Homo sapiens: one gene and its partners. The protein of the gene in region 3 purifies or fractionates together with the protein of the main gene of each other region. This does not show direct contact. Each region holds a gene or a part of one and is shown on either strand. Other genes may lie near its edges.

The links. The genes of interacting proteins can lie anywhere in the genome.
Region 1: the proteins of LMTK3 (region 3) and ANXA5 purify together in Homo sapiens (affinity purification with mass spectrometry; one large-scale study listed by BioGRID and IntAct). This does not show direct contact.
Region 2: the proteins of LMTK3 (region 3) and GPI purify together in Homo sapiens (affinity purification with mass spectrometry; one large-scale study listed by BioGRID and IntAct). This does not show direct contact.
Region 4: the proteins of LMTK3 (region 3) and UBE2V2 purify together in Homo sapiens (affinity purification with mass spectrometry; one large-scale study listed by BioGRID and IntAct). This does not show direct contact.

Annotation. Positions count from the first base shown.
Region 1 is NC_000004.12:121,670,214-121,672,980, forward strand, and holds part of ANXA5 (annexin A5), read right to left. Parts: intron 2,414-2,767; coding exon 2,320-2,413; intron 1,430-2,319; coding exon 1,334-1,429; intron 1-1,333. UniProt on the Homo sapiens protein: This protein is an anticoagulant protein that acts as an indirect inhibitor of the thromboplastin-specific complex, which is involved in the blood coagulation cascade.
Region 2 is NC_000019.10:34,396,196-34,399,554, reverse strand, and holds part of GPI (glucose-6-phosphate isomerase), read right to left. Parts: intron 3,255-3,359; coding exon 3,125-3,254; intron 2,975-3,124; coding exon 2,898-2,974; intron 349-2,897; coding exon 220-348; intron 1-219. UniProt on the Homo sapiens protein: In the cytoplasm, catalyzes the conversion of glucose-6-phosphate to fructose-6-phosphate, the second step in glycolysis, and the reverse reaction during gluconeogenesis.
Region 3 is NC_000019.10:48,509,036-48,513,133, forward strand, and holds the start of LMTK3 (serine/threonine-protein kinase LMTK3 precursor), read right to left. Parts: upstream 2,801-4,098; 5' UTR 2,579-2,800; coding exon of another isoform or gene 2,542-2,578; coding exon 2,466-2,541; intron 1,558-2,465; coding exon 1,424-1,557; intron 1,139-1,423; coding exon 988-1,138; intron 479-987; coding exon 402-478; intron 1-401.
Region 4 is NC_000008.11:48,011,431-48,014,930, reverse strand, and holds part of UBE2V2 (ubiquitin-conjugating enzyme E2 variant 2), read right to left. Parts: intron 1-3,500. UniProt on the Homo sapiens protein: Has no ubiquitin ligase activity on its own. The UBE2V2/UBE2N heterodimer catalyzes the synthesis of non-canonical poly-ubiquitin chains that are linked through 'Lys-63'. This type of poly-ubiquitination does not lead to protein degradation by the proteasome.

The sequences.
Region 1 (2,767 bases), on a different chromosome or scaffold from region 3:
TTCTGAGGTCTGCATAGAAAGGCATGGAGAATAAGGGCACAGGTTTTTCTATGCGCCTTGGTTCTGTGAAGACTTTTTGGATACTGCAGTTTGGGCAGCCTGGATTGTTATCATAATACCACAACATTCTTCATCACCAATAAATTACACAAATCCCTTGGAAGTTTTCATTCCAAGACATTAAAGCAAATAATACAAGATTACTACCTAATTTTTTTAAACTCTTGGGTGATCTTCCTATACTCTCTACATATTCTTTAATATCAATGATTCACACAGAGCAGCATGAGATTTATCCATTTCAGTACAAAAACAGATAAATCAATATCAGAAAGGATCTCTTCTCTGAACATGTACATGTTGAATGTAGGTTGGGGCTGCTCAGACCTCAGTCTGCTTAGCTTCAGAAAATCTATCATGAAAATTCCTTAATATACAAAAATAATCCTTGCATGTGGAGATTTCTTAATTCTCCCTTTTCTAAGTCTTAAGAAAAACAGCCACCAGTAACTGAAAATGTCTTAATTTGTATGCGTATTCTAATTATGAAGGACCTGTCTAAAAGTTTTCTGGTAAAAGTACATTAACTGTGTACTCAAGTGAAAGGCTACTTTTAGAGTTGGTTCATGCAGATCTTTAGCTTAGTCTCCTGAAGACAGAGAGCACAAAAGTGTGAGCTCAAGGCCAAATACTTGGAACAAACAGCAGACAGAGGCTCACTGCAGACCCATATGAACAAAAGGACCACAGGAGACTCACAAACTAGATTCTCCCTAGCTTTGGAGTACATAATACTGCAATCAACTGCACAGATTCAGTTCTCCAATTTTTCCAGATTATTCTGAATATTTAATTAAAATAAAACTAAATTATTTAATTTGAAAACAACCATCATCACATCTTCTATTACATCAAAGATATTCTTCTTTTCTAAACCAGATGACAATTTCTTAGTCTGCCTCAAAGCTGAGAGAACAGTATTCAAAAAAATTCTAAAATTCCACAGGTATCAGAAATAATGTTTACAAGCCTCTGAGATAATGTCCACGACATTTCAGGTTTATCAATAAATAATATTTTTAATGCAGCTTCAAAATGATTTTTAAACAATTATCTTAGTATTTCCATAGGATTTAGATGAACTAACCAGACAATCCTGTATTTCCAACATCAAAATAAATTTCTGAATTGGAAATTTGGGAGTTTGCTTCCCCTAAATATCATATCAAGCTCTTCCTTCACACCTAGGTGGTTATTTTCAGATGCAGCCTCAATTGAATAAAATGCTTTAGCTCTTACCACCAAAAATATCAATACATTGTAAATCACCTACCAACAGCAAGGAGTAGTTGCTCTAAATTGCCAGAAGTCTCGCGGTCAATGGTTTCCTCAATTTGAAATCCTGATATAGTCATGTACTTGTCAAACACTAGAAAAAATAAAAATGATTCCCTAATCATGTAGGGATCACTCTTTCCAGAAAGATGGTATTTACTTTGATTAGGTAGTGTCTTACTGAACACAAATCTCCCCTTCTTCCTTGCTGACAGAACCTTGTGCTCAAAGCCTCAATGTGCCAAGCCCTAAGCAATGGATTGTAAATATACTTTGTTCACTGATTGCCAGCCCCCTTACGAGTTATAGCCAATGAGACCTAAAGGTAAATCTACTGGAGGGGATGCTGAGAAATCTCCTCACTTACAAAAAGTGATACACAGATAGGACTAGTTTACCCTTTTCTTTCCTTCCTGCTGTGAAATGGTTAAGTTTGGAGCTAGAGCAGACATCTTATGATAATGAAGAAAGAAAACCAAAACACTAGGGATAATGGAGCAAAAAGAAAAACCAGAAAGATCTCAGGTCCTGCCAAATCAACCATGGAATCCCACCTCTGGAAAAAAAGCCCAATTTTTAAAGCCACTATTAGGGTTCTCTGTCACTTGCACTAAATTCATTCCCAACTGATACCACAAGTGCTGATGACTATCCAGAGATAAGGTCCTGGGTACCAACCTCTAGGAGGAAATACGTGTAGTGAGCCACTATTCAGTGATGTGTGACTATGAGAGGAACAATCTAGAGAACTGACCTCCCTTGCCATCCTCCAATAGTGAAGGGTGGACTCAGGATCTCTAGTTTGTAAAAGCTACAACAGCAGCAAAAACAATGTTGAGATTTCTCCAGGTCACCAAAAGGAAGAAATACAAAAACTGATTCATTCTCTAAGTCCCTGCTATGTAGCAGGTATTCTGTCACACTGGCTCATGCACTTTCCAAATTTACCAATGTATCTGCCCCATACAGATTTTTTTCACTCACCCTTTCTCAAATGAGACACACTTCGTGTTCCAAAGATGGTGATAAACTTTTCTTCATCTGTCCCCCATTTAAGTTCTCCAGCCTGAAATAAAGCCTGCAAAAATTTCAAACTCAATTAATAAATTGTTCCTCCATCTCATTTCCAGGTTCTTAAACACACTTGTTTTTTACTCCCTGAATTTTAACTCACTTGATTCATCATCTTGTATTAATAGTTTTCATTTCTAATGTGTCCTACTCTGAAACTCAGCTCACTGAGTTTGGAGCACCTTTGGAGCTTGCCACTGAACTGTGCCACAGAAGATTCATGGGTCCAAGCAACAAAGCACGGCAATGGTGCAAGGTTACATGTTCCCAAAATGTCTGCCATAACCTCCAATCTTTCAGAAGCAACAGTATGGGTCAGGAGAAAGTTATGACTACCTCACTGTTGATACATCCATGTATA
Region 2 (3,359 bases), about 14 Mb from region 3:
TGCAGAAAACACCAAGGAATGTCTCCAAGAGAGTCCTGATCCCTAAACCCCTTGAAGGGAAGCACACCCTGCCCCAGAGGCTGAGACGTGCAGGTCTGTGAGGACAGGCCCTCCCATTCTGTAGGACAAGCCAGGCACGCCCCAAGCCCCTGCCTGGTGCCATAGCTTCACACCTCCAACTCCAGCATGCACCCCAAAGCCAAATGCAGAAGTGCTGACCTTATGTGGCAGCAGCCTCTCAAGGTCCTCTGGACTCTTGCCCGCAGCCTGGAGCTCCTTTCGGGCCTCCTCCGTCGATTTTCCCCTCATCAGGGCCTCTGTCTGGGCCAAGAAGTTGGCCAGGAGGATCTGATGAGCGAGACATCAGTTATGCTTGAGAGCACTGTCTGGGCTTCAGGCAGAGGGACAAGACCGCCTGGTACTTCTCAGCAGGGGTCAGTCCCAGCCTGGGTCACTCGCTGTACAGCTCAGTTGGAGCGAGGGGGACACATCCGATGACACCACAAGGCAGGGAACAGTGATAACTGCTCTTTAAGAACTACACACCAGTGGCCAGGCGCGGTGGCTCACGCCTGTAATCCCGACACTTTGGGAGGCCGAGGCGGATGGACCACGAGGTCAGGAGCTCGAGACCAGCCTGACCAACATGGTGAAACCCGTCTCTACTAAAAATACCAAAAAAAAATTTAGCTGGGCATGGTGGCGCATGCCTGTCATCAGGCAGGAGGCTGAGGCAGGAGAATCACCTGAACCTGGGAGGCAGAGGGTGCAGTGAGCCAAGATCACGCCACTGCACTCCAGCCTGGGCGACAGACCTAGACTCCATCTCAAAAAAAAAAAAAGAACTACACACCACTTGCTAGGGGTCCTGCTCACAATTTTACCAACATCTATCTTTTAAGATCCTAAGAAGGTAGCTGGGCGTGGTGGTGTGCAACTGTAATTCCAGCTACTCCGGAGGCTTAAGCACGAGAATCACTTGAACCCAGGAGGCTGAGGTTGCAGTGAGTCAAGGTCACACTACTGCACTCCAGCCGGGGCAACAAAGTGAAACGGTGTCTCGAAAAAAAAATAATACTAAGATCCTAAGGAGGAAAGGCATCATCGCCCTGTTCTAGTAGAGCCTTGGGTTCCACAAGTCCACAGTGCTGGATCACAGAACTATAGACAGGAACAATCAGAATTCAATCCAGCTCACTGACTCCCAAGATTGTGCTACCGTAACCCTGTGCTGCTCTGCACACCTGAGACAAAGCACAGTAAATTCTCTGAAGGAGTTCGAGGGCAGCTTGGGCAACATACTGAGACTCCATCTCTACAAAAAATAAAAATAAAAAAATCAGCTGGGTGTGGTGGCGTGTGCCTGTTCCCAGCTACTCAGGAGGCTGAGGTAGGAGGATTGCTTGAGCCCAGGAGGGTGAGGCTGCAGAGAGCCTGATTGTGCCACTGCACCCCAGCCTGGGCAACAGAGCAAGACTCTGTCTCTTTAAAAAAAAAAAAAAACTTAGCCAGGCATGTTGTACATCTGTGGTCCCAGCTACTCAGGAGGCTGAGATAAAAGGATTGCTTGAGCCCAGGAGTTCAAGGCTGTAGTGAGCTATGATTGGGCCAGTGCACTCCAGCCTCAGCAACAGAGTGACATGCTATCTCTAAAATAAAATAAATAAATAAAATAAACAAAAGGGGAGATTTTCCTGGATTATCTAGTAGCCCCAATCTAATCACACTGGCCCTTAAAAGTAAAAGAGGGCCAGGCACGGTAGCTCATGCCTGTAATCCCAAAACTTTGGGAGGCCGAGGCAGGAGAATCACTTGAGCCCAGGAGTTGGAGACCAGCCTAGGCAACATAGTGAAATCTGGCCTCTACAAAAAGTTTAACAGTTAGCCAGGCTGTTAGTGCCTGTAAGTGCCTGTAAGTGCCTGTTAGTGCCTGTAAGTCTCAGCTATTTGAGGGGCCGAGGCAGGAAGACTGCTTGAGCCTGGGACGTTGAGAATACAGTGAACTGTGATCATGCCACTGTAAGTCCAGCCTAGACAACACAGCATGACACTGTCACTTAGGGAACAAAAGCAAAATGTAGAAGAGGAAGGTAAACAAGTCAGAGAGATGCAACAGAAGTGGCAAGACAGAATCAAAGCTTCAGAGAAGGATTTAACCTGCCATTGCTGGTTCTGCAGTGAAGAGGCCCACAAGCTAGAGGATGCAGGTGACCTCTGAGAATCTGAGAACGACCTTCAGCCCACAGCAAGGAAGCTGGACTTCAGTTCCACAACCATAGAGAAATGAATTCTGCCAACCACCTGACAAGCAGGTCAAAGGCTTTTCCCCTAAGGTCTCCAGAAAGAAACACAGTCCTGATGACACCTTGATTTCAGCCTGCAAGACTCTAAGCAGAGACACATCAGGGCCTGCTGGATATTTGAGCTTCAGAAACTCTTCAGATAGCCCAGGAAGGTGGCTCATGCCTATAATCCCAGCACTTAGGGAGGCCGAGGCAGGTAGATTACTTGAGGTCATGAGTTCAAGACCAGCCTGGCCAACATAGTGAAACCCCCCCTTTACCAAAACTACAAAAATTAGCTGGCCATGGTGGTGAGTGCCAGTAGTCCCAGCTACTTGGGAGGCTGAGGCATAAGAATCACTTGAGGCCGGGAGGGGAAGGTTGCAGTGAGCCAAGATCGTGCCACTGCACTCCAGCCTGGGCGACAGAGCAAGACTCTGTCCCCCCTCCCCACCCCACAAAAGAAGAGTGTTGTTTTAAGCCTCCATGTTTGTTATCATTTGTTACGGCAGGAATAGAAAACTAACGTGATTGCCAACCAATGCACCAGGTTTTCAGAGGTCTGGGTGCAATGTGAGCCAGACCCCCCAGATGGGGCCAGATGGGGGCTCTTACCTTGTGATGCAGACCCTTCCGTATGGGGTGCTGGGTCTGGACCGGGATGAGGAAGTCACAGGGTATCATCTTGGTGCCTGTGAAGGGCACTGTGGTCACCCACATGACCCCAGCCCATGGGAGCTAGCCATATGGCCTAGAGGAGGGCACTGACCTAAGTGAGATATCTCTTCTGGAAGATCCTTTCCCTCCCCCAACATCACCCTTCCCAGGCCACAGGGGCCTACCTTGGTGGATGAGCTGGTAAAAAGCATGCTGGCCATTGGTCCCTGGCTCCCCCCACACAATGGGGCCTGTCTGGTGGTCCACACGGGTTCCAGATTTGGTGATGTATTTCCCATTGGACTCCATGTCGCCCTGGAAAAGGAACAGAAACCCAGTTCTTGGCAAAATGAAAGAACATTTAAAAAGAAAGAAAGAGGCTGAGCGCAGTGGCTCAAGCCTGTAATTCCAGCACTTTGG
Region 3 (4,098 bases):
CACTCCACCACACAGCTCCCAACCCCCGGCTCCTTCCCAGCTTCTCCCTCCACATCCCACCACCCTTGACCCCCACCAGACATGGGGTGAGACACTCACGGGCCCAGAATCCGATGGACGCAGGGACGGATGGAAGGATGGACAGACGGACGGACGCGTGGAGAGCCGGGTGGCGCGGCGGAGTGGTCAATGGAGTGAGGAGGGAGGCGCTGACTGACAGATGTCGGGGATGGGGCGGGTGGGAGCCGGTGAGAGGTGGACGGAGGGGGGATGGGAGGCTGAGGGGGCATGGGGAGGAGGCGAGGGACAGATGAGAAGTGGTGAGAGCAGGGGTGTGGACACAGAACAGGAGGACAGCTCGGGATCCATGGAGCCCTGCCTCCCCTCCCCAGCCCACTCACCTTCCCAAACCAGCCACTCCCAATCTCCTGCAGGTAGCTCAGGTGCTGCCGGCTAAGGCCCAGGGGGGTGGTCATGTCTGGGGAGGGCAAGAGGGGAAAGCCCCTGAGTCTCTCCCCCTTCCTGAGTGCTACCAACACACCCCAGGTCAGTGGGGACTGAGACAGAGCAGACATCACTCTCTTTTCATTGGCTGCCACCCACATTCCATGTCAGAATCTCAGCTTCCTCATTGGCTGCTCACAAGGCTCCAGCATCCAATCAGTCCTTCCTTTTGGCATCCCAAGCTCCTATGATGTGATTTCAGCCTCCCATTGGCTGCCTCTGAGACTGTGCTCTATGGTAATCTCACCACCGCTTGCCCCTTAAAAATCCCCAAATCTGGTTTTGGATTAAGCAATGGCTTCCACCAAGATGATCTTTGTCTGCCTCCCCATAGGCTGCTTCCAAGATTCCAGCGCTCCCACCTATGCCTTTCCCATTGGCTGCCGCTGGTCTCAACCGCCCCAGCCCCTGAAGGAACACACTCAACATCTTCTGGCCTTTCCCGGGACACCATGGGATGCTGGTCATGGCGTGGGGCAGTACCTGAGTGTGAAGGCTGCGGGGCAGGCATTGGCAGGGAGACCTCAGCCAGCGGGAGAATGTAGACATCAGGCAGCGACTGTGAGGAGGAGGTCTCCTCCGCAGGGGGAGTGTACTCCCCGGAGCAGTCCTCCCCTTCAGGGTTCTCAAATTCCTGGGGCCAGGAGAGGAGAAGAGGGGTGGGAGAACGCAGGGCTGAGAGACACGCCATCGTCTTTCTCTTAAGTTTGTCTCCCCTTCATTTTTGTAACTGTCTCCCAGTCCCAGCCCAATTTCCATCCCCCATTTCCCCATCCCAAGGCTCCAGATCTTGCCATAGCTTCAAGCTGGAAGGTGCTCTCGGATTTACTGCCCCCTTCTCCCCACCAACCACCTGTGTAGGGGGTAAAGGCCTTGCTGGAGTCTTCCTCCCCAAGTTGAATCCCCTCATGCACCTCACCTTGAAGCCGACATCGCCCCGTTTGCAGCACAGACAGGTGAGGAGGAGGAAGATGAAGGCCAGCAGGCCGGAGCAGGAAATGAGGACCACAGCGTAGGGAGGAGCCAGAGGAGCCCGGCCCAGGGCGAATCCATCTGTGGGCACAGGGCTGGGCTGGGGTCCCAGCTTCAAGTCCCTGGATACCGGAATCATGCCCCCTCCCGTCCCGGCACGTCTTGGACTACAACTCCCGTGATGCTCTGCGACCAGGGTCCCTTGGCAGAGGTGCAGAGTGGCCCAAGGCATTGTGGGAGTTGTAGTTTGGGGCCTTCCCAAGTGGTTGGATTGGGGGTGGGGTCTCTCTTCTCGTCCCAAACTGGGACCCCCGCCACCTCATCCCACCCCATCCCCTCACCCCAGGCTTGGATGAATTCCAATGAGGGTTGAAGGAAAGAGGAGTGATAGTGAAGTCTGGAGCTTGCAGAATTTAAAATACGCTCCCGTGGACAGCCTCATTACCCCTCGTTGGGGAGGAGGACTAGCTCTCAGCTGCAGGCTGGGAGAAGATTCTTGCCCCATGCTGGAACCCCCCAGTTTGTGGGGTTGAGATCTGTCTCTTTTAGGGACGCTTGGCGCACACCGATGTTCTCTATCCCCAGCCCAAGACCCAGAGAAGGGAACTCCGCAAGCCCTGGGTCTCTCCAGAAGCCAGAGACAGCCTCCCGTGTTGTGTCCCCCTTAGAAATAGTATTCCTGTCCTCTGCCCCCAATTCTCCCAGAGGCCCTGTCCTTCCCCTTCTTCCTGCACACACCAGCACAAACACATGCGTGCACGCATACACACATGTTGCCCAAACGGAGCCCCCTCCCCACCCAGCCCCCAGCCTCCCTCCCACAGGCCCTGCTGACAGAGGCACCGTCCCCGCCGCTCCGGGCCCTGCTGGGCTGCGGGAAGACGCGCACCAGGTGACGGGGCAGGACCCGCAGACAGACCCCTGGGCAGACAGCGAGGCCGCCGCGGGGGTGGGGGCCACCGGACAGACTGATGGCCCGACAGACTCACCGGGGTGGGCCGGGGACGCCAGGCAGCCGGAGGCGGAGACGGCCGCAAGGAGGATGAGGGCGCCGGGGGCAGGCATCTTGTCGAGGATGGCAGGGAGGTGGAGGTGGTGGCGGCTGGGGAGGAGGGGGGGGCGGGCCCTCAGCCCCCAGCCATGGGGACCCGCGCGACCCTGGCCTCCTCCCGGCCCAGGAGAGGGGCAGGAGACGCAGGACAGGGGGAGGGAGGGGCTGCTTGCTGGCTCAGGTACCCCCCTCCCCCTCTTTGAAGGGACAGACGGATGAAGGGATGGAGAGGCGGACAGAGGAGAGATGCTGGGGAGCCGGGGTTGCTGGGGTGGGGGGGAGAGGGTAGGATGGGGGGGGCGAGAAAGAGGGCCCCGCCCCCGAGGGCAGCCAGGATTGGGGGAGCAGAGAGCCTGTCACAGGAAGGGTGGGAGGAGGGAGGATGGAGCGTCGTCATGGCAACTGGCTCCCCCGTAGCATTGGCTGCCAGGAGGGAGGGGAGGAAATGGGAGGGGGAGGGACAGACAGGGACCGGCACACACTTGCAGCGGGGGTGGGGGGGCAGGGCCCACGGGTGCCTGGCCCGGACACCGCTGTGACATGCCACCAGCATGGACACATGTGCTACACGCTAAGATGCAGATGTCAGGCACGCGCAGCCCACACACAGCTGACACACGTCGCAGGGACCCTCATAGACAAGCGCATCACATACAAAGGTGGACAGCCATCAGCAGACGGGGACACGTACACGTCACACACAAAGACGCAGGGACCGCACTGGAAACGCACAGGCAGGCCAGCTTCCAGCACAGATGCACCCGGCCACGCAGGAACGTCAAAGCATCACAAAGACCCACACATGCCCCGGACAAAGTAAAGCCCCAGATCCACAGACGCACACGCCACAGACAAAGATCCCCACGGACACCACTGTGACATGCTGACACTCATAGTCACAGCCACGCAGACAGTCCCTAGACAAATGGGCAACAAAGAATACCCACAGACACAAGTATCACATACATGCACGTCACACAGACATGCACAGACAGCAATTGCACAGACACACGCAGACACACACATCACATGAACTAACATAGACACGGACACAGCAGCTACACAGAGACAGGCACATCACATACATGAGTACACAGAAACATAATACATGCATGTATACGGACACGTAACATGCATCACTCACACGGACACAAGCTTCACTCACATGGATACACACAGACACACTACATACACATGCATGCGGGCACACACAACTCATACATACAGGGCTACATAAATCACATGCAAAAATACACATAAATACACCACACACTGATACATACAGACACATATAACATGCACATATACACAGTCACACATACATAAGCACAGACATAGGCACACAGATCAAATACACAGACACACAGAGTTGCACACATCACATACCTAAACAGACATGGACACACACATCACAAATACACACACCTTTCACACAAGGTTACAAAGACACAGAACCCCACCACAGTCACACATCACATACATAAACACACACTGGCACACATAACACATACAAAGAGTCACACACCCACAACACAGACACAGACACGCGCACAGACACACGGGTCGCAAAT
Region 4 (3,500 bases), on a different chromosome or scaffold from region 3:
CTACAGGTGCCTGTCACCACGCCCGGCTAGTTTTTTGTATTTTTGGTAGAGACGGGGTTTCACCATGTTAGCCAGGATGGTCTTGATCTCTTGACTTCGTGAACCACCCACCTCGGCCTCCCAAAGTGCTAGGATTACGGGCGTGAGCCACCACGCCCAGCCAACAAGCTTTTTTTAATGAAATAAAACATTTTAATTCTTAATATCTGATACTTTAAATTATGACATACTAAATATTAATTTTACTGGTTTCATTTTCCTGCACATTTTTTTTTTTTTTTTTTTTGAGGCAGAGTCTCTCTCTGTTGCCCAGACTGGAGTGCAGTGGAGCAATCTCAGCTCACTGCAAGCTTCGACTCCCAGGTTCACACCATTCTCCTGCCTCAGCCTCCCGAGTAGCTGGGACTACAGGCGCCCATCACCACACTCGGCTAATTTTTTGTATTTTTAGTAGAGATAGGGTTTCACTGTGTTAGCCAGGATGGTCTCCCATCTCCTGACCTCGTGATCCGCCCCCCTCAGCCTCCCAAAGTGCTGGGATTACAGGCGTGAGCCACCATGCCCGGCCCTTTCCTGCATATTTCTAAACAGGGAGAGTTCTTAATGTGTTGACATTTTTGAAGGTCTCAGAATAACCATAATTTTCCCAATTATTAAGACTGCTTTGGGTAGTTTTTTGCATGGCCATTTTTACCTCTGCCAACTGCCGTTCAAAGGACTGCCTGTACAGTGAGGTTGTACCATATTATCAAAAGCATGTTTATCAAGAGAATTCAGGCTCCCAAATGACCTAGAAAAATCAACCAGGCCAGTTATGGAAGCCTCAAGAGGGAAATACACTAGACTACCATAGTTCAGCTCTTCTATCGTTTAGTTCCCAAGTTCTAGGTTATGATTTAAACTATGTAATTCTCTTCTATCACCACACCCGAGTTCTGTCCATATCCAAGTATCTTCATCTAAAGAGGAAAACAAGATGATGTTGTCCAATCTTTTCACAGATGGGATGGGAAAAGCAATGTTTAGTGATTAACTGACATGCCCATGGTGGCACAGTAGTCTGTCAGGGGCAGCAGGGAACTCAGAACACTGCTAAACTAGTTCTTCCAGTATATACAATGCTACCCACTTCTGAAGAAGGCAATTAGTAGGTTATATTTTGGTTTTGTTTTCTGCCTACATAGCAGAAAACATATTCTTTCATCAATTTTTTCTGAGTTTCTCATAACTCAAAGACATTTTCCAGGCATCTACAGTCAGAGACTAGAGCTTCACTGTACCATTAATATTACCTAAGTGATAAATGTAAAACGTTTCATGTGGGCCGGGCGCGGTGGCTCACGCCTGTAATCCCAGCACTTTGGGAGGCCGAGGCGGATGGATCACGAGGTCAGGAGATCGAGACCATCCCGGCTAACACGGTGAAACCCCACTTCTACTAAAAATACAAAAAAAATTAACCGGGCATGGTGGCAGGCGCCTATAGTCCCAGCTACTTCGGAGGCTGAGGCCACAGAATGGCATGAACCCAGGAGGCAGTGCTTGCAGTGAGCCAAGATCACGCCACTGCACTCCAGCCTGGGCCACAGAGCGAGACTTCATCTCAAAAAAAAAAAAAAAGTTTCACGTTACAATGTAATGTGGTATCCTGGATGAAGTCCTAGGACAGCAAAAGTACATTAAAGAAAAACTAAGGAAATCTGAACTTTAGTTAATAATAAATGTGTCAATATTGGTTCCTTAATTGTGACAAGTGTACCATACCAATATAAGAAATTAACAGCGAAGCCAGATGCAGTGGCTCACACCAGTGATCCCAGCACTTTGGGAGGCCAAGGCGGGCGGATCATGAGGCCAGGAGTTTGAAACCAGCCTGGCCAACATGGTGAAACCCTGTCTCTACTAAAAATACAAAAAATTATCCGGGTGTGACAGCACACACCTGTAATCCCAGCTACTCGGGAGGCTGAGGCAGGAGAATCACTTGAACCCAGGAGGCAGAGGTTGCAGTGAGCCCAGATCACGCCACTGCTCTCTAGCCTGGGCGACAGAGCAAGACTCCATCCCGAAAGAAAAAAAAAGGAAATTGACAGGGAAAACTGAATGTGAGGTGCATGGAAACTTTCTGTACTATCTTCACAACTTTTCTGTAAAACTAAAACTATTGTATTTTTTTAAAACTATTGCACACGCTTTTTTTCTTTTTTTTTCTGAGATGGAGTCTCACTCTTCTTACCCAGGCTGGAATGCAATGGCGTGCTCTCGGCTCACCACAACCTCTGCCTCCCGGGTTCAAGAGATTCTCCTGCCTCAGCCTTCCGAGTAGCTGGAATTACAGGCATGTGCCACCACGCCCGGATAATTTTGTATTTTTAGTAGAGACATGGTTTCTCCATGTTGGTCCAGCTGGTCTCAACCTCCCGACCTCAGGTAATCCGCCCACCTCGGCCTCCCAAAGTGCTGGGATTACAGGTGTGAGCCACCCCACCCGGCCTGCACATACTTTTCTATCTAAACTAATTGTTATTATTAATGCTGGAATCTAATAAAATTTTGAATCATGAGTACTAAACAGTATCAAATTTCTATTCCCGAGAGTAGCTTCTTAACCTCTGTCCTGTGAAATACTCTTGAATTGCATGGGTAACTCTGTCTCTTGGAAAAGGAGAACCTAGCTGGTGAGGGCTACGTTCCCCTTTCATCCATAAGAAGGATCTAAGAGTCTGAAACAAGGATTGTGCTAAGAAGGGAAGTGTGAAAGGGAGTAATTAAGATTCATGTTCTGAGAAATATTCCAAATTCAGAGTTCTTCATAATGGAGAGCGCATCAGACTAAGGGTAAAAGACCTGGATTCTAGTCTTGCCTGTACTAGTAACCACCTATGTATAGCCTTTTACTTGTTTGAGCCTCAGTTTTCTCATCTGCAAAATAAGAAGACCAGATGGGATGGCCAAAAATGTTTCTGCTTAGAAGTCTCCGTCTGGCCAGGCACAGTGGCTCAAACCTGTAATCCTAACCTCAGGCCAGGGCAGGAGGGTCACTTGAGTCCAGGAGTTCAGACTACACTGGATAACATACGGAGACCCTGTCTCTACAAATAATTTAAAAATTAGCCAGGTGTGGCAATGCGTGCCTGTGTTCGCAGCTACTCGGGAGGCTGAGGTAGGAGGATCACCTGACCCCAGCAGGTCGAGGCTGCAGTGAGCCATGATCGCATGCCACTGCATTCCAACCTGGGCAACACAGCAAGACTCCGTCTCAAAAAGTCTCAGTCTAATTAAAAGTTTTTTCCTTCCAAAATTCTCTTCCAGTAGAAGGAAGGGTTAAAGGGGCTAAGGTATATGATGCACACTGAACTAAAGATCAAAACATATTTGTCAGGGTTTTTCTTTTTGGCCTCTTAAACAACTGTTATCGAGATACTTTGGCTTAAATAAAAAACACGTGTATTAGACCAAGCTCAGTGGTTTATGCCTGTAATCCCAGAACTTTGGGAGGC